Homo sapiens: one gene and its partners. The protein of the gene in region 1 interacts with the protein of each later gene in a pairwise test. Each region holds a gene or a part of one and is shown in the gene's direction. Other genes may lie near its edges.

Evidence for each region.
Region 2: the proteins of PAX6 (region 1) and HNRNPC interact in binary tests that used the Homo sapiens proteins (3 or more experiments, as listed by UniProt).
Region 3: the proteins of PAX6 (region 1) and PPIL4 interact in binary tests that used the Homo sapiens proteins (3 or more experiments, as listed by UniProt).
Region 4: the proteins of PAX6 (region 1) and UBE2K interact in binary tests that used the Homo sapiens proteins (3 or more experiments, as listed by UniProt).
Region 5: the proteins of PAX6 (region 1) and GCM2 interact in binary tests that used the Homo sapiens proteins (3 or more experiments, as listed by UniProt).
Region 6: the proteins of PAX6 (region 1) and GRHL2 interact in binary tests that used the Homo sapiens proteins (3 or more experiments, as listed by UniProt).
Region 7: the proteins of PAX6 (region 1) and TLK2 interact in binary tests that used the Homo sapiens proteins (3 or more experiments, as listed by UniProt).

Annotation. Positions count from the first base shown.
Region 1 is NC_000011.10:31,791,425-31,794,322, reverse strand, and holds part of PAX6 (paired box protein Pax-6), read left to right. Parts: intron 1-208; coding exon 209-291; intron 292-520; coding exon 521-671; intron 672-769; coding exon 770-885; coding exon of another isoform or gene 886-1,059; exon of another isoform or gene 1,060-1,118; intron 1,119-2,898. UniProt on the Homo sapiens protein: Transcription factor with important functions in the development of the eye, nose, central nervous system and pancreas. Required for the differentiation of pancreatic islet alpha cells.
Region 2 is NC_000014.9:21,231,443-21,234,942, reverse strand, and holds part of HNRNPC (heterogeneous nuclear ribonucleoproteins C1/C2), read left to right. Parts: intron 1-713; 5' UTR 714-749; coding exon 750-990; intron 991-3,500. UniProt on the Homo sapiens protein: Binds pre-mRNA and nucleates the assembly of 40S hnRNP particles. Interacts with poly-U tracts in the 3'-UTR or 5'-UTR of mRNA and modulates the stability and the level of translation of bound mRNA molecules. Single HNRNPC tetramers bind 230-240 nucleotides.
Region 3 is NC_000006.12:149,539,544-149,543,043, reverse strand, and holds part of PPIL4 (peptidyl-prolyl cis-trans isomerase-like 4), read left to right. Parts: intron 1-1,457; coding exon 1,458-1,525; intron 1,526-1,612; coding exon 1,613-1,677; intron 1,678-1,984; coding exon 1,985-2,102; intron 2,103-3,500. UniProt on the Homo sapiens protein: PPIases accelerate the folding of proteins. It catalyzes the cis-trans isomerization of proline imidic peptide bonds in oligopeptides.
Region 4 is NC_000004.12:39,739,636-39,743,135, forward strand, and holds part of UBE2K (ubiquitin-conjugating enzyme E2 K), read left to right. Parts: intron 1-3,500. UniProt on the Homo sapiens protein: Accepts ubiquitin from the E1 complex and catalyzes its covalent attachment to other proteins. In vitro, in the presence or in the absence of BRCA1-BARD1 E3 ubiquitin-protein ligase complex, catalyzes the synthesis of 'Lys-48'-linked polyubiquitin chains.
Region 5 is NC_000006.12:10,875,883-10,879,041, reverse strand, and holds part of GCM2 (chorion-specific transcription factor GCMb), read left to right. Parts: intron 1-1,649; coding exon 1,650-1,902; intron 1,903-2,484; coding exon 2,485-2,597; intron 2,598-3,025; coding exon 3,026-3,151; intron 3,152-3,159. UniProt on the Homo sapiens protein: Transcription factor that binds specific sequences on gene promoters and activate their transcription. Through the regulation of gene transcription, may play a role in parathyroid gland development.
Region 6 is NC_000008.11:101,498,939-101,502,438, forward strand, and holds part of GRHL2 (grainyhead-like protein 2 homolog), read left to right. Parts: intron 1-3,500. UniProt on the Homo sapiens protein: Transcription factor playing an important role in primary neurulation and in epithelial development. Binds directly to the consensus DNA sequence 5'-AACCGGTT-3' acting as an activator and repressor on distinct target genes.
Region 7 is NC_000017.11:62,597,325-62,600,824, forward strand, and holds part of TLK2 (serine/threonine-protein kinase tousled-like 2), read left to right. Parts: intron 1-3,326; coding exon 3,327-3,496; intron 3,497-3,500. UniProt on the Homo sapiens protein: Serine/threonine-protein kinase involved in the process of chromatin assembly and probably also DNA replication, transcription, repair, and chromosome segregation. Phosphorylates the chromatin assembly factors ASF1A and ASF1B.

The DNA of each region.
Region 1 (2,898 bases):
AGAAAGGTCACTGAATGCCATTCCAAAGAAAATTTAACTTGGTTCTGGTGGGAAAGTTCTTCCAAGTACAGTCAACACTAGAAGCATTTTAAAGGGAATTGGTTGGAGGTAATGGGAGTGGGGAGGTGGGAACCAGTTTGATGCACAGTTTGGTCAACATATTTTGTGTAGTTCTGGCACAATATGGAAAATCAACTTACTCTTTCAGAGTTTGAGAGAACCCATTATCCAGATGTGTTTGCCCGAGAAAGACTAGCAGCCAAAATAGATCTACCTGAAGCAAGAATACAGGTACCGAGAGACTGTGCAGTTTCACACTTTGTGATTCATACCATTTGTCTTTCCTAGAGACAGAGGTGCTTGTACAGAGTACTATTTATTTATAGGACTAATATAATAAAAAGGTTCAGTCTGCTAAATGCTCTGCTGCCATGGGCGTGGGGAGGGCAGCAGTGGAGGTGCCAAGGTGGGGCTGGGCTCGACGTAGACACAGTGCTAACCTGTCCCACCTGATTTCCAGGTATGGTTTTCTAATCGAAGGGCCAAATGGAGAAGAGAAGAAAAACTGAGGAATCAGAGAAGACAGGCCAGCAACACACCTAGTCATATTCCTATCAGCAGTAGTTTCAGCACCAGTGTCTACCAACCAATTCCACAACCCACCACACCGGGTAATTTGAAATACTAATACTACGAATCAATGTCTTTAAACCTGTTTGCTCCGGGCTCTGACTCTCACTCTGACTACTGTCATTTCTCTTGCCCTCAGTTTCCTCCTTCACATCTGGCTCCATGTTGGGCCGAACAGACACAGCCCTCACAAACACCTACAGCGCTCTGCCGCCTATGCCCAGCTTCACCATGGCAAATAACCTGCCTATGCAAGTAAGTGCGGCTGGTGGTGGCCTGCATAACCCAGGCCCCAGAGAAGTGAGGAGTGGCTCAGGGCCTGCGGACCTCATTGGCTGTGTCTGCACCCTTGAGAGCTTTTCGCACTACAGTGATTGGCTTGACCAGTCAAGTCGGAGACAGTCAATCCCATCACTTTTAAGTGATTGACTCATTAATTCATGCCCTAAAAAAATGAGTAATAAAAATCTGTCCAGTTTTGTCAGGTTGATCTGCCTTTTATTATACTGTTACCTTGATAATGTTGGGTGGTGGTGGGGCATGTTTTGGGTACCAGGGAGCCTTGCACCAGAAAGTGGAAATAATGCTGGCACATTATCAGATAGCAGATTAGTAGTTTAAAATTTGGGTTTATATTAATGTGTTTGTATGCTAAATATAGAATCTGTGCACGCATTTGGGGCATTACTTTGGGTATATGTGATAAACTAGTGAGAAAGAAAAAAGGATCAGAAATGGGATTCATATTTACATGGTGAGATATACATAATATAATGAGAATGCTAGTTTTCTGTCTGTATCTACAATAAGAAAAGGCATAGCAGGTATTTGCTGGAAATTTAGTGTGTCTTTGCTGTGAATGGTGTGACGAGTTTGTGGCCCTCCTAGCTGCCTGGGAAGCTTGATGCTATTCACTTGGTATGACAGCCTGCCTCTCCTCTTAGTTCTGTCCCAAATATCTATTAGCCCCTACATTTAGAGGTCCTGCACTAGGTTCACCCTTTATGATGTAAGTTGGATAAGGCAGATGGTTTGTACTAGACCTTTGTTGCTGGATGGATTCTTGATAGGAAAAATGTCTGTCTTCTGGTAGGCCTTTCCCAGTGGTTTTCCTAGAACTCCTGTTTGTGCAACAATTAGAGATATTAGATGGTACGATATTGGCCAGCATGAGCCTCTGCTGGAAACAGTTCTGGGGCTACACTGATTGTTTATTCTCCATTGAACATTTTTTGCTGGATTTCAAATCCAAATAACAGCAAAATAAATGTTTCACAGTCTTCAGACTAATATAGGAGCAGCTAGATAAGCAACTTCAGAGGAATTATTCACATGTTTATTTTTATTGCATCTGGATATTGTTGGCCATAGTGCAATTGATGTAAATTAAGGGATTAACAGCCCATTAGTTGGTGTTGCTATAACTGCGTTGGAATTTTCCAGAAGTCAGGTTGCCTAGAGGAACTCATTGCAGGAATTAGAAACAAATGCAAGCTGAAATTCTGGCAGGCCCTCAAGGCCTGTTTGCCTCTTTGAACTTGATGTTAGCATTCATCATCTGACTTTAATAAGGCCACAGAGTGTCTCGTTCAGTTTCATGTATTATAACAACATCCAGGTTTCTGTGAAGATAGCAAAATGTGTATGTGAGAAAATAATAAGACGAACAAGTAGATGCTGCAATTATATTAGGGCTGTTTCCACATACAGAGCGGTATGGGGAATCAATCTATTTCAAACACTGACTTTTAAAAATTACATAATTTGTATAATTCAAAAAGTACATGCATTCATTAAGCATAAAGAAAATCAAAATGATCAATAACTTTACTCTTCAGAGAAAACTACTCTTTGAATTTTGGAGTGGGTGAGCCCGATTGTCTATCCATTTATTCATTCTCTTGACCAAAATCATCATTTTACAAATGGTGGGTGTCTTCCTCTGGACCTTCTCTGATATGCTTCCCTCTCTGAGCATATGGATTTTGGAAATTAAACATTTCTCCAGTTTGCAGAGAAGAGAAATGATAGTATACTGTACTATCATCTGACCTGCTTGTTCCCGACACACTTCTTTTAATTCATCCCAAGTTTGCTGCCATGGCATAGTACCATGAGAGCTCATGAGGCGTTTTGTTAGGAGAAAGGTTTACCTCCTCAGTGCTGCCATTCCGAACAGTTCGAGGGTAGCAACAGTTTTCTAGTTATAAGTCAGTCTGGGCTTTTGGGTCTGTTAGGAAGTCATGGTTAATTCTCAGGATGGAGGTC
Region 2 (3,500 bases), on another chromosome or scaffold:
TTTTAGGTTATATAAAAAGTAGCCTTCGAGTCATTGCAGTCTGTAAAAAGATGGTATTGATACTTATGTATCTAAAGCATACTGCAGATTAATTGAAGTATCTGGAAATAGGTGTTTCCAGTGTAAATGAATTGATTCTATTTATTGCCTTTTGAAGAAAATTATACTTAATGGGTAAGTGTAAGCTATCCATATTAATCTAGCTAATGAATGGCTTGGGACAGAATTTGACGTTTGCTATGCTGTGTGTATATATACAGAACCGGTGAAACTCAATAAAAGCAACGTGAATCAAGATTATTGATGGCAGGGAATAGTTAGCATGACCTGTAATGTGAAAAACAGCAGAAACTGGTGTCAGAGAATTTAGGCAAATCTAATTTGCTTGAGTACTTAGAGGAGGGCCACTTGGAATTATGTCCAAGGAAATTATATTGCCAATGATCTGCCAGGGAGAATTTTTTTTTCCTGAGAATTTAGAGTTTAGTGCTGCTGAAATAGAATGGAAGAGGAAGAAGTTGACTTTCTAGAGTATATTCAGAGGCTGGAGTCTCTGAAATTATTAGCAAATACATACTTAATGCTGTGAGTCCCTTTAAGTTGCCTAATACTCTGGGCAGTTAACAGTGATTCAGAGTGAGAGTGGAGAATGTTTTATCAAGGAATATTGTTTTTAGCATCTGTTCACCTGTATACTTTTTTTTGCTTTACAGTTTTCGGCTTTGTGAGAAACCTTACCATCAAACACGATGGCCAGCAACGTTACCAACAAGACAGATCCTCGCTCCATGAACTCCCGTGTATTCATTGGGAATCTCAACACTCTTGTGGTCAAGAAATCTGATGTGGAGGCAATCTTTTCGAAGTATGGCAAAATTGTGGGCTGCTCTGTTCATAAGGGCTTTGCCTTCGTTCAGTATGTTAATGAGAGAAATGCCCGGGCTGCTGTAGCAGGAGAGGATGGCAGAATGATTGCTGGCCAGGTTTTAGGTAAGTGAATTTTTTCATTGATGATGTAATTCAGGCCTGAGTTTTTCTATTCACGTTTTTTTTTTGTCTTTATGTCTGTAAAACTGACAGCATGAGATATTCTGGATATTGCGACTGTTTAGCCTAATAAAAATACATTAGGCTTATAGTTATAATTGGCTAAGTAAAGGATATTCTTCATTGTACCATTTTGTGTAGTAGAGCTAGGACAACTCTACTACAATCGTGAGTAGGGGGAGCTGGGAATGACACTTCACAATGTAAAAACGTTGCCTAAATGGTTGTGTCCTGCCCACAGCAGACTGGAGGAGCCCTCTAGTGTTGATTGCTTGTCTCCCCATTGGGATTTCACTCCATCCGTTGGGCCGACTGCAGTTTGGCTCAGTGTTAGATTTTCTTGTATTTTAAAATGTAATGACACCTCAGAGTACTTACTACCTATGATTTGGTTTATTCAAGCCAGAATCCAGTGTCCACATGTTTATTTTATTAGTTGTACTAGATGTCTGTTTTAACTTCTCATTTTATGTGTACCTTGTGCCTCAGTTTCAAAATTATCATACCTTTGTTTTTACAAAGTTAAGATGATTATTTTTAAATTTATATTTGTGATTTAGTTTATTCTTTGTATACATTCTACTATGTATATTGACTCAAAGCATGGTAGGTTAGAGTTATGTGAAACAATTCTTTGATAATGTTATGTAACCAACCAGATACATAATTTGGGTCTATTTCATTGTTTTTACATCTTACTGGATTGCTTTTTCAGAAATTTAATTCTCTTTAGTTTTGAAACACTTTATATGGTTTCAAAGTCAGAATTGTAAATGAGGTTAATGTACCAAAACCTGAAGGTTATTCATGTAATGGTGTTCAGCAAATAGACAATATATTCAGTCCTTTTTTTTTTTTTGAGACAGAGTCTAGCTCTGTTGTCCAGGATTGTGTGCAGTAGTGCAGTCTTGGCTAATTGTAACCTCAGCCTCCCGGGTTCAAGCGATTGTCCTGTTTCAGCCTCCCGAGTAGCTGGTACTACAGGCATGTGCCACCACACCTGGCTAATTTTTGTATTTTTTAGTAGAGGTGAGGTTTCACCATGGTGGCCAGGCTGGTCTTCAACTCTTGACCTCAGGTGATCCTCCCGCTTTGGCCTCCCAAAGTGCTGGGATTACAGGCGTCAGCCATTGGACCTGGCCTGAGTCAGTTTTCAGTTGGTCATTTGATGAGCTGCTTTTGTATAAAAAGGGAAGATAAATAAGATTAAGTTTAAGATATCCACATTTGGCCAGGTTCGGTGGCTCATGCCTGTAATTCCAGCACTTTGGGAGGCTTGAGTTGGGCAGGCCATGAGGTCAGGAGATGGAGACCATCCTGGCTAACACCGTGAAAAGCCATCTCTATTAAAAAATAAAATTAGCAGGCTGTGGTTCTGGGTACCGGTAATCCCAGCCGCTCAGGAGGCTGAGGCAGGAGAATTGCTTGAACCCGGGAGGTGGAGGTTACAGTGAGCCGTGATTGCACTCCAGCCTGGGCAATGGGGCAAGACTCTGTCTAAAAAAATACCCACACTCATCTAGTTAATGGTTTGAGGTGGAATTTGGAATTTATATTTTGGGGCATTTGTATATTAAAATGAAGCTCATTTTAATAAAAGCAGTATATATGAAAATGGAGTTACTGTTGACTCGAGTGCTGTAGCATGACTGGGAAGGTAAACTGAATTTTAGAGAGTTTTTGGCTTTTTGACATGGGCTTTTTAGAACAAGGAGAAGATAAATTCTTGTTTGGTAGGCAGTGGGTGGCAGGGTAGGTAGCTGGGCATACGTGTTACAAATTGTATTTGAAAACCAGGGTTGTTTCCCTTTGCTCTTTTATTTTTTTTGGTGTGTGTAAAGGTTGTTTAAGCAATTGATCAATTATTCAGAAAGCAGTCGTTAACCCAGGATATTTTACGTGTAGAACAGCTAATCCTTACTTATAAAGAAAATCTGAAGTTGCCTTTGAGGATGATTTGAGGTTGTCACACTTCACTATGTTAATTTGTGAATTGGCATATATTTTAATATATTTCATTCTAATATATTTGTAATAATTCGGAATGAGCTGAACCATTCTTGGAAAGGCAACCAGTGATAGTTTTCTCTTGTAATAGTAACTGAGTGAACAGTCAGTACCTTGAATGGGGAGAGTTGAGTTGAAGTGGTATCTGAGGGTGGAGAGTACCAAAGACAGACTTAATGTTAGTCTCAGGAACACTTGAATGGTAAAGAACAGACTACAAAGAAACGGAAGATGAAGCCTTAGCCTTGTAAAAATTTGTGAGCCTTTTTAATATTAAAAGGAGAGATGAAGCTGAGCTTGATAGCTCACACCTGTGATTCCAGCACTTTGGGAGGTCAAGGCAGATCACGTGACCCCAAGAGTTCGTCCCTACGAAAAATAGAAAAATTAACCAGGCGTGGTGGTCCCTGCTACTTGGGTGGGAGGATCACCTGAGCTTCGGAGGT
Region 3 (3,500 bases), on another chromosome or scaffold:
TGCCTAAATTCATTATTTTTGTTTCTAGTAAAAGGACCACCCCTATCTGTTAAACATGAAGCCCAGAAATATATTCAAGAAAAACAACTGCAAGACTGATATTCAGCACTCTTCAACAGCTCAGCCCCATCTTATCTCTCCAGTCTTTTCATGCTCTATTACTGTGTAATACCAGACTATTACAGAACTTTGGTGTTTTGGACCTCCCCTAAAACATTTAAATTTCCACTTCCAGGCCTTTTCATAGTCTTCCAGACCTAAAATGCTCACCCTTCACTCTCTGCTAGTCCAGTTCTTTTAATGCTTGCCTTAACCTTCCCTGAGGTTTTCTAATTTCCCTAGCCAGAAACAATCTTTTGAACTCTTGTGGAATTTTTAAAACTACTTTTTTTACCATTTTAAATAAGTGGCACACATGTTATTAATTAGATATGCCCAGTATGTAACTACTTGTGTTCAGATGTAAGGACCCTAATTTAATGTAAGCTTTTTGAGGGCAGGGATTGCCTCATATATCTTACTGTCTGTTTGGTTTCTAACTTAGTGCCTTAAGAGCTTGTTAATGTGTCTTTCCACGACTAGACTGTGAACTTTTTGGGAGCAGGGACCACAGTTTAATGGCATTTGTGATGGCAGTGTCAGGCATCTAGAAGGTACTCAGTAAATGTTTATTGGATAAGCAGATTAACTTGTATGAGAAAGGTTGTTCATAAGTGTATGGATTTTTATAAAGGGCTGTTTAACTATTATTTAAAAAATGACCCCGGGTGTTTGACTTTTTCCTAATTGATATAATCCGTATCCATTTTTATATATTCTGCTAGATCCTTTTCTACTACAATATGCTCTTTAAGTGTTCTTTTTTCTCGTAATAAAATCAATCCATCAGTAAATGATTGCTTATAAGTGTCAGTTTTCTGTATTAGCCCAGATGCCCCAAAACTCCTATTAAAGGAAAAAAAAAGGTAATTTAAAATGTTTTTTTTCTAGACTTATTGCCCTTTTATTTTATTTTATTTTATTTTATTTTGAGATAGAGTCTTGCTCTATTGCCCAGACTGGAGTGCAGTGGTGCGATCTTGGTTCACTGCAACCTCCACCTCCTGGGTTCAAGTGATTCTCCTGCCTCAGCCTCCCTAGTAGCTGGGATTACAGGTGCCCGCCACCATGCCTGGCTAATTTTTTTTGGTATTTTTAGTTGAGACAGGGTTTCACCATATTGGCCAGGCTGGTCTCAAACTCCTGACTTCAAGTGATCCACTCACCTCCGCCTCCCAAAGCGCTGCGATTACAGGTGTGAGCCAGCGCCCGGCCTATTGCCCTTTTTTATAGCTTTGGACATTTGACTTTTTTTTTCTTTTAATAGTAATTTAGAAATTACATTTTACTGTGGCTTTACTTATTTAAAAATGTGTTTGTGGATTACTGTGATAAATTTGGTATTTACTTTCTTTCAGCCTGCTTGAATTTCTTGAAACTGTGCAAAATAAAATATTACAATTATTGCCTTATTCACAATGTACAGGTGAGTTGGTAGATATTAGTCATTTCCTTTGTTATTGGAACTATCTAACAAACTCTGTGAATTAACAAAGAATCCTACATATTACAGAGGGATTTTATCATACAAACTGGCGATCCTACAGGGACTGGCCGTGGAGGAGAGTCTATCTTTGGGTAAGTTGTTTTATTTATTTATTTATTTATTTATTTATTTATTTATTTACTTTTAACCTCTGGAAGGGCAGAACAAATTCTTTTATTCTTAAATGAGGAAAAATATAATTGCTCATGCTTCAATCTGCATTTTAAAATATGGTTTAAATTTAGATTTTTTCCCCCAAGTTCCCTAAAAAAAAAAAAGTAATATTTTGAATTCTGTTGGCATTTCTGTAAAGAAATAATTGATAACCCTGTATGTTACTAGTACTTCTGTATTTCATTTTGAGAGTACTTACATTTATAACCTTATATGTTTTTTCAGCCAACTGTATGGTGATCAAGCAAGCTTTTTTGAGGCAGAAAAAGTCCCAAGAATTAAGCACAAGAAGAAAGGCACAGTGTCCATGGTGAATAATGGCAGTGATCAACATGGATCTCAGGTTAGGAAATGAGTAAGAATATGAGATTTGCTTAGAAATGAAGGACTGGAAGGAGCCCACAGAGTTATTTTTTAAACTATCCAGTAAGGCTTAGAGGGTTTCAATCAGAAATATGTGTTAGGGGAAAAAATGCACTTTTTCTATATTAAAAAATATTATTTTCTTCTTTTAAATGTAAAGCATTCCTATTGTGAAGAATTGAGAAAATACAGAAAAGTACAAAGAAAAACATTACCTACAACTCCACCATCCGTGATTATCACTGTTCACATTTGTGGCTCATTTTTCAGTATTTCTTTTTATTTAATTAATTAATTTATTTTTATGAGATGTAGTCTCACTCTGTCTCCCAGACTGGAGTGCGATGGCACAATCCTCGGCTCACTGCAACCTCTCCCTCCCGGGTTCAAGCAATTCTCCTGCCTCGGCCTTCCGAATAGCTGGGATTACATGCGCCTGCCACAACACCTGGCTAATTTTTATATTTTTAGTAGAGACGGGGTTTCACCATGTTGGCCACGATGGTCTCAATCACGTGACCTCATGATCCGCCTGCCTTGGCCTCCCAAAGTGCTGGGATTACAGGCGTGAGCCACCGCGCCTGGCCGTTTTTCAGTATTTCTTACTTTTTTAAAAACATTACGCAGAGTACCTTCTATTCATTGTCTTGTTTAATTCTCCCAATGACCCTGTTAATTCTCCCAATGACCTACTTGTTAGAGTAGGTACTTCTGTTTTCTACTATATACACATGAAGTTGAGTCATGGCTTGTCTAAGTATTTTGTTTTATTTTATTTTATTTTATTTATTTAGAGACAGAGTCTTGCTCTGTCAGCCAGGCTGGAGTGCAGTGGTGTGATCTCGGCTCACTGCAACCTCCGCCTCTCAGGTTCAAGCGATTCTCCTGCCTCAGCCTCCCGAGTAGCGGGATTACAGATGCCCACCACCACGCTCGGCTACTTTCTGTATTTTTCGTAGAGACAGGGTTTTGCCATGTTGGCCAGGCTGGTCTCAAACTCTTGACCCCAGGTGATCCACCTGCCTTGGCCTCCCAAAGTGCTGGGATTACAGGTGTGAGCCACCGTGGCCGACCAAAAAATACTTTATTACTAACAAGTGCTTCTGATCATCTGAGCCTTCAGTAAATCATAATCTTTTTGCTGGTGAAGGGTCTTGCCTTGATGTTGATGGCCGTTGACTAATCTGGGTGGTGATTGCTGAAGGTTGGGGTGACTGTGGCAGCTTCTTAAAATAAGACAACTGACTGGCGTGGTAGCATACATCTGTAATCCCAGTACTTTGCGGGGGCAAGGCAGGCAGATGGGTTGAGCTCAGGATTTCGAGACCAGCCCAGGAAACATGGTGAAAACCCCATCTCCACAAAAAAATACAAAAAT
Region 4 (3,500 bases), on another chromosome or scaffold:
GGGGTTTCACCATATTGGCCAGGCTTGTCTTGAACTCCTGACCTTGTGATCTGCCCACCTCAGCCTCCCAAAGTGCTGAGATTACAGGCGTGAGCCACCGCACCGCACCCAGCCCATTTTTTTCTTTCTTTATTGGAGAGATGGCATCTTGCCAAGTTACCGAGGCTGGTCTCAAACCCCTGGCCTAAAACAATCCTCTTGCCTTGGTGTCCCAAAGTCTTGGGATTCTAGGCATGAGCCATTGTGCCCAACCTTGTACCAATTCTTAAGTGATAAAATTTTATTTTTTGTTTTATAGTTCATACGAGCCATTTCTAGATATTTAATTTTTTATGCTGTTTATCGAGTGCTTCCTATCTGCTTGGCTTGGTCTGGCAGTTTTCATGGATGCTGTTTCATTTAGTCCTTTTTGCAATCATTAAATGTAGAGGAGACCTTTAGTTATCTTTAAAAAATCAGATGCTTGTCCTAATAGCAGATGTTTTTATATAATAATATACTAGCTTCTTCTTGAAGTCAGACCTTATAGTTATTCTTGAATTTTTTTTTAGGTTGTTTTGAAGTATTTTTGGAAGATAGTAGGGCAGTGACATTATTCTAGAGGTCTGTCAGCAAAGTTTTAAATTTTTTCATTGATTTTTATAAACAAGGCACTTCCTGAGCTAAATTAGATAGAAGCAATATTTAATAGGTAGATTAATTTTTTTAATTGGATAATGTATACTTATATACATTAAGATATATTAAGATACACTAATTAGCCGGGCGAGGTGGTGGGCGCCTGTGGTCCCAGCTACTCGGGAGGCTGAGGCAGGAGAATGGCGTGAACCCCGGGAGGCGGAGCCTTCAGTGAGCCCAGATCGCGCTGCTGCACTCCAGCCTGGGCGACAGCGAGACTCTGTCCCAAAAAGAAAAAAAAAAAGATACATTAAGATATATTCTTATGGCCGAGTGCGGTGGCTCACACCTGTAATCCCAGCACTTTGGGAGGCTGAGGCGGGCAGATCACGAGGTCAGGAGATCGAGACCGTCCTGGCTAACACGATGAAACCCCGTCTCTACTAAAAATACAAAAAAATTAGCCAGGCGTGATGGTGGGCGCCTGTAGTCCCAGCTACTTGGGAGGCTGAGGCAGGAGAATGGTGTGAACCCGGGAGGCGGAGCTTGCAGTGAGCCGAGATTGTGCCATTGCACTCCAGCCTGGGCAACAGAGCAAGACTCCGTCTCAAAAAAAAAAAAAAAAAAAAGATATATTCTTTATTGGTTAGAAACAAGTTTGGTCATTTTTTTTCTTTTCTTTTTCCCGATACCGAGAATGGGACCAAAAGTTTGGTCATTTAAAAGTGCTTATATCTGCCTGGGCGGGGTGGCTGATGCCTGTAATCCCAGCACTTTGGGAGGCTGAAGCAGGTGGATCACGAGGTCAGGAGTTCAAGACCAGCCTGACCAACGTGGTGAAACTCCATCTCTACTAAAAATACAAAAATTAGCTGGGTGTGGTGGCGTGCGCCTATAATCCCAGCTACTCAGGAGGCTGAGGCAGGAGAATCCCTTGAATCCATGAGACGGAGGTTGCAGTGAGCTGAGATCGCACCACTGCACTCCAGCCTGGGCGACAGAGGGAGACTGCATCTCAAAAAAAAAAAGTGCTTATTTCTGCTGCTGCTGCTGCTAAATGAATATTTTGATAAGATTAGATTTAATATGCTTTTTATATATTTGAGGTAGAGTAACTTGAATTCTGTTATTTTATATAAAACTATTGAGAGAAGTTCATTTTGTTAAGGAAAACACCATTCAAGGACATAAACTTTAATGCTTTTTCTTTTAAATGTGACGATAGGTTAAATGTTTATTGCAAGGATGTTGCAGTTTTTTGAGTTTTTAAAAATCTAAACTTAAATGCTAAAGCAAAAGTTTACATGTGGAATGTTAAGCAATTTATAACCATTATTAAGTAATGAGGCAGCTGTTTTTGTAGTATTTAAAGAATCAGATTGTGAAGTAGAGTACTCACGGGAAAATGCCATATTGTGGATGTTACTTAACTCAATTTTCTTCACTTCTTTTGCCTTAATAATTCAATGACAAAGGAACAGTTTAGTTCTTGAGCTTTTCTTCCTAAAATTTCTTTTAGGTTTATGGAATCATTGTTGACAGCTTAAAAATTCTCATTCCTTCCTCATCTCCTCTTTGGGTTAAGTTAAATTTAAAGATTGTTAATTTTTAATATTAAAAGCTATTCTTCAAGAAGTTAATGTTTTAAAGTAAAAACTATTATAATATGAATAATATAGTTATCATAAGGATTCCTTAGTTGTATTACCCTGATCAAATAATGCTATGATTAATGCTAAGTGGTCATATATTGAAAGTTGTCAGAGCGTGTAACATAAGGGATAGAAATAAGATTTTAGAGACTCTCGAGTCCAGCATTATTTATATAATATCTGTGGGCCCTCACACTGCTCCTAAGAGATTATTTTGGCCATTAACAAAGAACTTTGTATGATGGGTTATAGAGATGGTTTAATCTGGAGTTTAATCAGAAAAAAAAAATTCTTAGGAAGGAAAAAGAAAAGCCTATGTAGTGCTGAAGCCAAATTTATTATAACTATATTTGAAGCTGGCATTTCTAATTCTGGGTATAGACAGTTATTGTCACAAAATTTCTTCAGGTACCCTTCTCTTACCTGTCAGTTTTTTTTTTCTTTCCACTACTTTTCTTTAAATTTCATTATTGTTATATGTTCTGTGATTCAGGCATTTAGTTCAACTCATGCATGAATCACTATGGGATTCTATTAAAAAGAACTAGCCACGAGGCATAACGGCTCATGCCTGTAATCCCATTACTTTGGGAGGCTGAGGCGGGTAGATTATTTGAGGTCAGGAGTTTGAGACCAGCTTAGCCAGCATGCTGAGACCCTGTCTCTACTTAAAAAAAAATTAAAAAATTAGCCAGGCATGGTGGCGCGCACCTGTAGTCCCAGCTACCCAGGAGGCTGAGGTAGGAGAATTGCTGGAACTGGGAGGTGAAGGTTGCAGTCAGCCGAGATCGCACCATTGCACTCCAGTCTGGGCAACAGAGTGAGAATCCGCCTCAAATAAAAAGTAGCCAGAAGAGAGGCCAGGCGCAATGGCTTATGCCTGTAATCCCAGCACTTTGGGAGGCTGAGGCAGGCGGATCACCTGAGGCCAGAAGTTCAAGCCCAGCCTGACCAACATGGTGAAACCTCATCTCTACTAAAAATACAAAAATTAGCTGGGCATTGTGGTGGGCACCTGTAAACCCAGTTACTCAGGAGACTGAGGCACAAGATTTGCTGGAACCTGAAAGGTGGAGGTTGCAGTGAGCCAAGATTGTGCCTCTGCACTCCAGCCTGGGCAACAGAACGACCCTGTCTCAGGAAAAAAAAAAAAAGAGAAGGATTCGAAACAAAAAGGGCTTGAAGAAAATAGTACCACTTTTATTTTTTCCTCAGATTCATAGTCATCCA
Region 5 (3,159 bases), on another chromosome or scaffold:
TTACTGTTAGAATGTGCAGTATTAATGATGTATACAAGTCTGAATTTTCCAACTGTGAATACTTCAGCTTTGCAAATGTTTGATCTAATTTTCCTGAGTGGCAAGAGTGGGGAGGAGATGCAAATGGCTTACTGCTATTATACACTCTTCTGAGCCTTTATTACACCAGCAAAGCTACTGGGTCTGGCTGCTACCCATCTTCTGTTTATATTCCAGCTATGCCACTGTGAAAGGTTATCTATTGAACCTCCACTTCCTTATTTAGTAAACAAGAGTAAAGATGTCCATCTTGCAAAGATGTTGTGAGAATTATATATATTGCATAATATGGCTTTGCAGGTCATACTGTTTCTGTTCCAAATATTCAATTCTGCACTGTAGTGTGAAAGCAGCCCTAAACATTACATAAAAGAAAGTGCTCAGTGGCCGGGCATGGTGGCTTATGCCTGTAATCCCAGCACTTTGGGAGGCCAAGGTGGGTGGATCATGAGGTCAGGAAGATCAAGACCATCCTGGCCAACATGGTGAAACCCCATCTCTACTAAAAATACAAACAATAGCCAGGCGTGGTGGCATGCACCTATAGTCCCAGGTAGTCAGGAGGCTGAGGCAGGAGAATCACTTGAACCTGGGAGGCGGAGGTTGCAGTGAGCTGAGATCATGCTACTACACTCCAGCCTGGGTGACAGAGTGAGATTCCATCTCAAAAAAAAGAAAAAAGGAAGTGCTCAGTAAAGGGTGATTTTTCAATGAAACTTATATGCAAAAGTGACATTTATTGCAGTGTAAATAATGCATTAAATTGACAAAGACTACCAAATATGAATACTAAGGCAATGCTCAGTATTTTAGATACAACTTATTATTGCAGCCATGTGGCTCTTTGTTGAGGAGAATGACAGTCCCATATTGCTCTGGGGAGCAGTCCCGTGCCAGACAAGCTCACCCACACCCCAAAGCTCATGGCTTAAGTCCCTCATTGCAGTACCCTTTTAAACTTGGAGAGCCAAGTTGAGAGTAGGGAGGGAAGCTGTTCTTTCCTCTCTGACATTACTCTGGGTGCCACTGCTAATGTGACTGACAGGTTTGGCATACAGAGCCAAGTGCTTTTGAAGAAAATGCACTGACTTAAAGATATTTACCAGTTAAATTGCATTTCAGTGATAGAACATTCCAATCACTTTTTCCCCTGGTACTTTGATACCTAACTTAAAAATGTTTTCAACATTTAAACACACCAAGAAGTGATATAACATAGTGGTAAGAAGTACAGGCTCTGGAATGGGACTGCCAGGGTGCAAATCCTGGATCCAGATCTTGCTAGCTGTGTGATGTGACCTTGGGCGAGTCGATTAACCTCTCTGGCCTCCATGTCCTCATCGGCAAATTGGAAATAATTGTTTGCCTATAATTTGAAGTCTAGATGAACTAATACATGTATAGCATTTAACAGATAAGCACTATATAAACATTAATTATTACCTGGTTGTCAGGAAGTCTTACATAGAAAGAGTGGCATTTTGGAATTTGACGTTACTGGATTTAAAAAGAACTGGTTTGTATCCTAATGTGCTCAGAGAAATTTTAGAGCATGATGTGTGCAGTTTGGACTGGATAGACTGACCACCCTTCCTTCTGCACTCTTCCAGGAGCTGGCCCTCTTTGACCAATTCCGAGAGTGGCCTGACGGCTATGTGCGCTTCATCTACAGCAGCGATGAGAAGAAGGCACAGCGTCACCTGAGCGGCTGGGCCATGCGCAACACCAACAACCACAATGGCCACATCCTCAAGAAGTCGTGCCTGGGTGTGGTGGTGTGTACACAGGCCTGCACCCTGCCCGACGGTTCCCGCCTGCAGCTGAGGCCGGCCATCTGCGACAAGGCACGGCTGAAACAGCAGAGTGAGGACATGGGGCCAGGGAGAGGGTGACCTTGGAGTCATGAGTTTTTTGTTGTTGTTGTTTTTGTTTGTTTGTTTGAGATGGAGCCTCACTCTGTCACTCAGGCTGGACTGCAATGGTGCAATCTCAGCTCACTGCAACCTCCGCCTCCCGGGTTCAAGCGATCCTCCTGCCTCAGCCTCCCAAGTAGCTGGGATTACAGGCATGCGCCACCACGCCCGGCTAATTTTGCATTTTTAGTAGAGACAGGGTTTCTCCATGTTGGTCAGGCTGGTCTTGAACTCCCGACATCAGGTGATCTGCCTGTCTCGGCCTCCCAAAGTGCTGGGATTAGAGGCGTGAGCCACCACACCCGGCTAATTTTGTATTTTTAGTAGAGACAAGGTTTCTCCATGTTGGTCAGGCTGGTCTTGAACTCCTGACCTCAAGTGATCCACCCGCCTCGGCCTCCCAAAGTGCTGGGATTACAGGCGTGAGCCACCGCGCCCGAGCATGAGTTCTTTGTTCCCAGCTAATTTTCCCCTTCTTCCTTCAGAAGGGTCTGGGGTCAGGGTTAATATTTCTCCCTTCTGGGCTTTGCAGAGAAGGCATGCCCTAACTGTCATTCTGCTTTGGAGTTGATTCCTTGTCGAGGGCACAGCGGATACCCCGTAACCAACTTTTGGCGGCTTGATGGCAACGCGATCTTTTTTCAGGTAGGTCAGGTGAGAACACAATTTGTGATGGATACTTTTCATCAGACCACAAAGGCCAAACCACCTGTCGTGTGCCTTGGGAACCCTGGGCCAAACAAAATACAGCCCCAGTGGCCAGAAATAGGTGCTGGAGCTCCCCAGGGACCTAGCGGGAGCCTAGAAATTCACTCACTACTTTGTGCTCTTTAAGGTACACAGATGGTAAACCAAGTTATAGTTCTTTTAATAGAGTGAAGGGATTGCAGGTGATCTTTTCAGATGTCAATTCTTGAGCCTGTTTTATTTGTTCAAGAATTTTTTTTTCTGTCATTTTGAAAGAAACAAAACTAAACTCTTGAGATGTTGGGAAAGGCATGATCAATTTTTGGGCAACATTGTCAGCTTCCTTTAGAGGCACAAATGTATGATTCATTTTCTCGTTATCGCAGGCCAAGGGAGTTCATGATCATCCAAGACCAGAGAGCAAATCAGAGACAGAAGCTAGAAGAAGCGCCATCAAGAGACAAATGGCCTCTTTCTACCAACCCCAGAAAAAGAGAATTCGAGAATCCGAGGTAACAGG
Region 6 (3,500 bases), on another chromosome or scaffold:
GTGGCGGGCACCTGTAGTCCCAGCTACTTGGGAGGCTGAGGTGGGAGAATGGCGTGAACCCGGGAGGCAGAGCTTGCAGTGAGCTGAGATTGTGCCACTGCGCTCCAGCCTGGGAGACAGCAAGACTCCGTCTCAAAAAAAAAAAAAAAAGTACTTGGATAAATCAAACATACACAGAAGCATTTAAACAACATTAACAGTACCCAATCACCTGAAGAAGTGTTTGTTTCAAATGTACAGAAGATTCAAATCAGATTTTTTGGATGTTAGGTTGTTAAATTTACTTTTTAAAAAGTTTTAGATAATTCAGGCAACTGCCTCAGTTCCTCTTTATGGCTTATGGTCTAACTATAGACATACGTTTCTGGTTAAAAAATTAACTATGGTTACATAGTATTTTTCCCCTTCCTTACTTCCTCCCTTATTTAAACTAACATTTTCTTCTTGTTCCCTCCTTCCCTTCTTTCCTTCCTTGGTTTGTCTCCCTAATGTCACTTTCCTGGTTTTTTTTTCCTCCCATATTAACTTGGTGAGAACTGCACAGCTTCTGCGCATAGAGATAACGGTGAGTCTGATTTTAGGTGCTGCTATAGTTAGTGAACTTTGCTGCATTCTTTCAGTATTTACAGCATCAGCAGCCCATCCTTGTTACCTGGGCCAAGAGGTAAGATCATTGCAGCAGATGATGTCAACTAGGTTTAACCTTGGAAAAATTTGAAGTCATTTTTAGTATAAGAAAAGCCTTACCCTAAGTTAGAGTTCTCACTCATGATCCCTGGCATTCACTAGGGTACTGATACTCTCTTCCTTTTAAAGAGGTTTTCAATGACTCTTGTTCAATTATAAAAACTAGGCCTGGCCAGGCGCGGTGGCTCATGCCTGTAATCCCAGCACTTTGGGAAGCCGAGGCAGGCAGATCATGAGGTAAGGAGTTCGATATCAGTCTGGCCAATATGGTGAAACCCCGTCTTTAGTAATAACACAAAAATTAGCCAGGCATGGTGGCACGTGCCTGTACTCCCAGCTACTCAGGAGGCTGAGGCAGGAGAATCGCTTGAACACAGGAGGTGGAGGTTGCAGTGAACCAAGATCGCACCACTGCACTCCAGCCTCACTCCAGAGTGAGACTCTGTCTCAGAAAAAAACAACCAACCAACCAAACAAGAAATAAAAACAAACAAACAAAAAACAACAACAAAAAAAACTAGGCCTAACCTGATAAAGGGTAGTGATTGGTTTGGCAAACTTGTCCAGGGAAAATTCCTTAATGAGCAGCAACAGGCTGGATAGGAATTTTTGCTTTGGCCCAGGAGGACTGGTGGGTTGCTTAGTAACAACAACATGTACCTGGGAGTCCCTCAGATAGCTTCACTGGTCTTCAAATTTAGGCCTCCAAATTTCAGATTCACCCTACCATCTACCTGCCTGCATAGTTTCTTCCTTTGGATTAATTCAGGCTCTTCAGATCAGTTTTGTTTATTTTTCCATTACCAGGAGAGCACATTTTATGTTGTAAGTTTCTTATAATGGTAAATGGTAAACTGTATTATAATAGGTAATAACAAAAGTGTATATATATATTTTTTTGAGTTGGAGTTTTGCTCTTGTTGCCCAGGCTGGAGTACAATGGCACGATCTCGGCTCACTGCAACCTCCGCCTCCTAGGTTCAAGCAGTTCTCCTACCTCAGCCTCCTGAGTAGCTGGGACTATAGGTGTGCGCCACTATGCCCGGCTAATTTTTTGGTATTTTTAGTAGAGACGGAGTTTCGCCATTTTGGCCAGTCTTGTCTCGAACTCCTGACCTCAGGTGATCCATTCACCTTGGCCTCCCAAAGTGCTAGGATTACAGGCATGAACCACCACGCCCGACCGAAAGTGTGTTTTATGCTGTAAGTTTCTTACTGGAAATGGTAAAAAAAAAAAAAAGTACTGGATTATAATGGGTTAAGTGGGATAGAAATAAGAAAGCATTCCTTTGGGGATCTCTACCTCCCATCCCCAATTATACTGGGAAGAGAGAAGTGTTTCAGCTTCATGAGTTTTGGTGAGCAGTAGTAATATTATTTGTAAAAAGAGCACCTTTTGATTTGCCACATACAATACTAATCAAATAACACATTTTAAGAATTCTTATAGGAAGTGCTAGAAAAGCTGGTGCATTTCAGGAGATTTCAATGTATATTTTGAAAATAAGTCAGGGTTCTGGAGGTTGTTCATGCATTTGAATGGGCATTCAGTGGAAAGCAATCAATGCCTGTGGTAGATGAAGTACCTTATTTTACTTTGTAATGAACATGGCAATGAACTTTGTGGGGAGCACTTCACTTTCACTCCCAAGGAAATGCTTCCTTTACAAGTGTGAATGCAGATACCCTCCGGAACAGAAACGGAAAGCAAGAATTGCTTGTGGCTTCTCTTTATTTTGGCGCCAGCCTTTCATCTGAACTCTGAATATACAAATATAACTAACCCTGAGAGCCAGAGTCCCTTCTTTTTTAAGGCCCATGAATTTAGATCAGGGTTTTAGGAGACAAGGAAAGGCTGAAGTGAAGGAGAGAGGAGTGGAGAAAGGAGAGGACAGAAGGGAGCAGGAAGAAACTGCTTAACTACTGTTAAGTTGCCAGTGTTTTCTCAGTGGAGTGTGAGCGGCCAGCAGGGGCTGCTGCCGGGGCCTAGGGTGCGACAGCATGTGGCTGTTTGGCCTCCTAGATAATTGGTTTTGGTTTTAATTTGCAATCTAGAATCCTAGAGCTAGAAAGAGCCTTAGGGATCATCCAAATGCATCGTAGGGCATGTGAGTGAGCAAGTATAGGATTTTGATCTAAAAGCCTGGATTGAGAAGAAATGTAAGAAGAAATCTTACATTTTTTCTTCTGTGTTTCATTTTGGGATTCTAAGTATAAATTGAAAATTTGGAGTTTTGATTAGTTTGAAAAAACATGCTTTTTTTTTTTAAGAAAGATTGAGAGCAAGATTAGCACTGCATGTTTACTTCTTAAACCATGAACGTGAGTCTGTGAAATACCTGGTTAAGATTCTGATACCATTACTGGGGAGTTAAAATTGACTTTTCTTCCCACACTCACCCCAAATCATTGTTTTTTGGTTCTCAGTTCAGTGAGTCCCATAAAATAACTGCCTTCTGTACTTCTTGGATCTAACTTTTCAAAGAAACAAGGAACAAAGGTAGCTTTTGCCTCTTTCCTGCATTGCCAATAAGATAATTAACATAAGATCAGAAGATTCTTCTTTCATTATTTTTCATCTGTAAAATGGAATTGAACTAAATGATCTCCGTGAATAATTACCTGCTCCTATATTCTGTGTCTCATTTTCTCCCTCCAGAGGGGTCTGGGCTGGTGGTGGCTCACAGCAGGGGCCATGAACATTAGCAAGACAGGAGGTTACAGGCACAGTGGGACCTGCTTCTGCTCCCAAGCCCCCTCACCTCCTTCACCAAAATCAACGGTGGTCTGATTCAGATGGCAGACTTTTGGAA
Region 7 (3,500 bases), on another chromosome or scaffold:
CTGTGTCAGTACTTCATTCCTTTTTATGGCAAAATAATATTCCATTGTGTGGATATACCACATTTTGCTTATAACGGTTTGATAACCAGCTCACAAAATTCTTGAAAATTTAAGTCAGCTCTTGGAAACTGGCATGAGTTGGTGCCAGCATGCCACTGACGTGCACTAGTGAGTGTAGACTGTTCAAGAGAGTTTCTGCTCACCCCAGAGACTCTTATGAACATTGACAGACCTTTTTAAAAAGTACTGGCCGTGTGATTTTATCCTAGACTGAGATAAGAAATGTGGCACTAATGAAGACAAGGCTCAGTGCTACATGTTGAAATACAGGCTCATAGGCTTATAGGATGTTAGAATAGGAAGGGATCTCAGAGTCCAGCCTTTTCATTTTATAGGTGGATTTTGAGGACCAGAGAAGTTAAATAACTTGTCTGAGATAGTTATTAATTGTGGGCATTGCTATATTTTGTTACTTGGTATAGGTAACCTCCCGTGCCTCTGGGTTTATCCAGCAGTTTAGCTGGATATATCTCAGCATTTGGAAATGTTTCTCTGTAGAAGTCTGAACTGAATCAGAATATACCCTAGGTCTAGACTTCAGGTTCCCTCAGCCTCCCAGGGTAATTCTAGGAGTTTTGGTCTGTTCTAGCCAACAGTCTCAGATATGGCTGTGCAGACAGCTGCCTTACATTTAGAAATAACCCCAAAGAGGACTATAATTCCCTTTGGAAACATGACCTGGGCCATTCTCTCAGGGATTTCTTCTCATTTGGGTAGCCCTGGCACTGAGCTTAGCCATGTGTGTTTCACGTGGAGTGGAATTTTTTTAAAAAGATCTAGTTAGAAGGCAGGATTGGGAAACAAGGGGCGGGGCATGACATTACTGTTTTGCCTTGAGCAAATTTCTTGAATACTAGGTAGACCCCCCTCTCTGAACTATTAAGTTCAAGAACTATTTCAAAGTTAAATATCAGGCTCAAATTATCTGCTGTTTTGAATTGTATACACACTTTTAACTAATGTGAGAAATTGAGTTGGTTCTATACTATTCTTGAGTTGATTACTTTGTTCTTCCTATTGTATGTATGATGAATTTTCACCAAAAATAAGTCAGACCATGATTTTTAGAACATCTTCTGAGAATTGTTTGGGTATTAAAAGTGAGGCTTTATTTTCTTTTCTTTCTTTTGTTTTGGTTGTTTTCCTTTTTTTTTTCCTGAGATGGAGTCTCACTCTGTTGCCCAGGCTGGAGTTCAGTGGTGCGATCTTGGCTCACTGCAACCTCCACCTCCCAGGTTCAAGCGATTCTCCTACCTCAGCCTCCCATGTAGCTAGGATTACAGATGCACGCCACCATGCCTGGCTAATTTTTGTATTTTTAGTAGAGACAGGGTTTCACCGTGCTGGGCAGGCTGGTCTTGAACTCTTGACCTTGTGATCCGCCCGCCTGGGCCTCCCAAAGTCCTGGGATTACAGGCTTGAGCCACCGCGCCTGGCTGAAAGTGAGGCTTTATTTTCAACTTGCATTTGGGTGAAAGAATCATTCCATTGAGCATGAGTCTATATTTCAGATTTCAGAATCTCAGATCAGAGGAATCTATAAATTTCAGACATTTCTTTTTTTAATTTTATTTTATTTGAGATGGAGTCTTGCTCTGTTGCCCAGGCAGTAGTGCAGTGGCATGATCTTGGCTCACTGCAACCTCCACCTCATGGGTTCAAGCAATTCTCCTGCCTCAGCCTCCCAAGTAGCTGGGATTACAGGCATGCGCCACCATACCTGGCCAATTTTTTGTATTTTTAGTAGAGACAGAGTTTCACTATGTTGGCCAGGCTGGTCTCAAACTCCTGGCCTCAAGTGATCCACCCATCTCTGCCTCCCAAATTGCTGGGATTACAGCAGACATTTGTTTTCAAATAGGGTGTTAGCATGCCCTGCCATGTTTCTTAAGATACATAAGATATTGTTCAGTTTGTGGTGTCCACAGGACCATGTGTGTCCATGTTCAATTGCAGTGCTTTATGAAGGCCTCAAATTGCTCAGTGGCCCATAGCGCTAGACCTGAGTCTGTTTGCTCTCAGTTCTGTTCCTCGCCCTTTCGCTGCTCTGTATCTTTGGGGGGTTAGCCCGTGTAGGCTGTGTTTATCAGGCCCATGTGTCCATTGGTGTTCTGTTGGTTTCAGCCAATGGGAAGGCAGAAATGGGAGGGGGTCTCCACCTCCTCTCCCTCCCCGCAATTCTAGTTTCCCCTGATGACCCTGGGTTCTGGTTTCACCATCTCCTCCCTTCTGGCCTGCTTGCCTGAGGGTGCTAATGGCTTCCTGCTGTAGATGATCTCTAGGGTGCCTCACTGACCAGTTTGTCTTCTCAGCTCTTCCATCATCTGTATGATCAGTTCCCTGAATTAAAGTCTCTCTGTTTTAAATGTTCAGGTGGTTTTTTTTTCCAGGCTAAACTGACTGATACACCCACATTGTCACAACTTAGAAAACTTCAAAACGTATTCATCCCTCAGGAATATTCAAACAGTTCAGGACACCTTACTTCAGAGTATAATGCCTTGGAAGATAGACACGTGACCTGTGATGCCACCAATGGCATATGGTTTTATGTATGGGTCTGTATGACATATTGACATAAGGGAAGGAAAGAGAACCCACATACTTTTGTTAGAACCATAGATACTATACTTTACAAGCTCTTTTACACCTTGTGTTTAAGAGAAATTGTAGTGCAGTATTGTGCCAAGCTGTCAGAAGACGTAGTATGCAGTCAGTTTTTGGGACGTGGGCAAACTCTAGATTCTTACTCATTGCCAGCACTCAGGGTTATATAAAATGTTTGCAGTGCGAATTGTGTACCTAGCCAAAATTGCGCCACTGCACTCCAGCCTAGGCAGCAGAGTGAGACGGAGTCTCAAAAAAAAAAAGAGAGAATTGTGTACTTGATCACATTCTGGTTGTTTAGACGTGGATGTGTGGCATGGGTGTGTAAAGGAGCCCCTTCCAAGAAGATACCTAGCTTAAATACATTATAGTTCTTATCAGTATTCTTATAGTCTAGACTCAAGAAGAGGTCTGCCATGGGTGAACTTGAGCACAACAGATTCCAACATTGAGGGTGTGGAAACTCTTCAAGAGAATAAGCAGTTTCTTACCAGAAACCCCTCAGCTAATACTGAATAAACAATTGAAGAGTATTTTAAGGAACAAAGAAGAAAGGAGTGAGAAGCTGATGACCTGAAGTTTTCACATGGGACTAATTTAGGTAGTGTTAATCTGCTTGCTCTTATTCCATGGTTAAATATTGGTTTATTTGTCTTTAGGTTTTGTACAGTATTAGAATACTGTGAGGGAAATGATCTGGACTTCTACCTGAAACAGCACAAATTAATGTCGGAGAAAGAGGCCCGGTCCATTATCATGCAGATTGTGAATGCTTTAAAGTACTTAAATGAAATAAAACCTCCCATCATACACTATGACCTCAAACCAGGTAT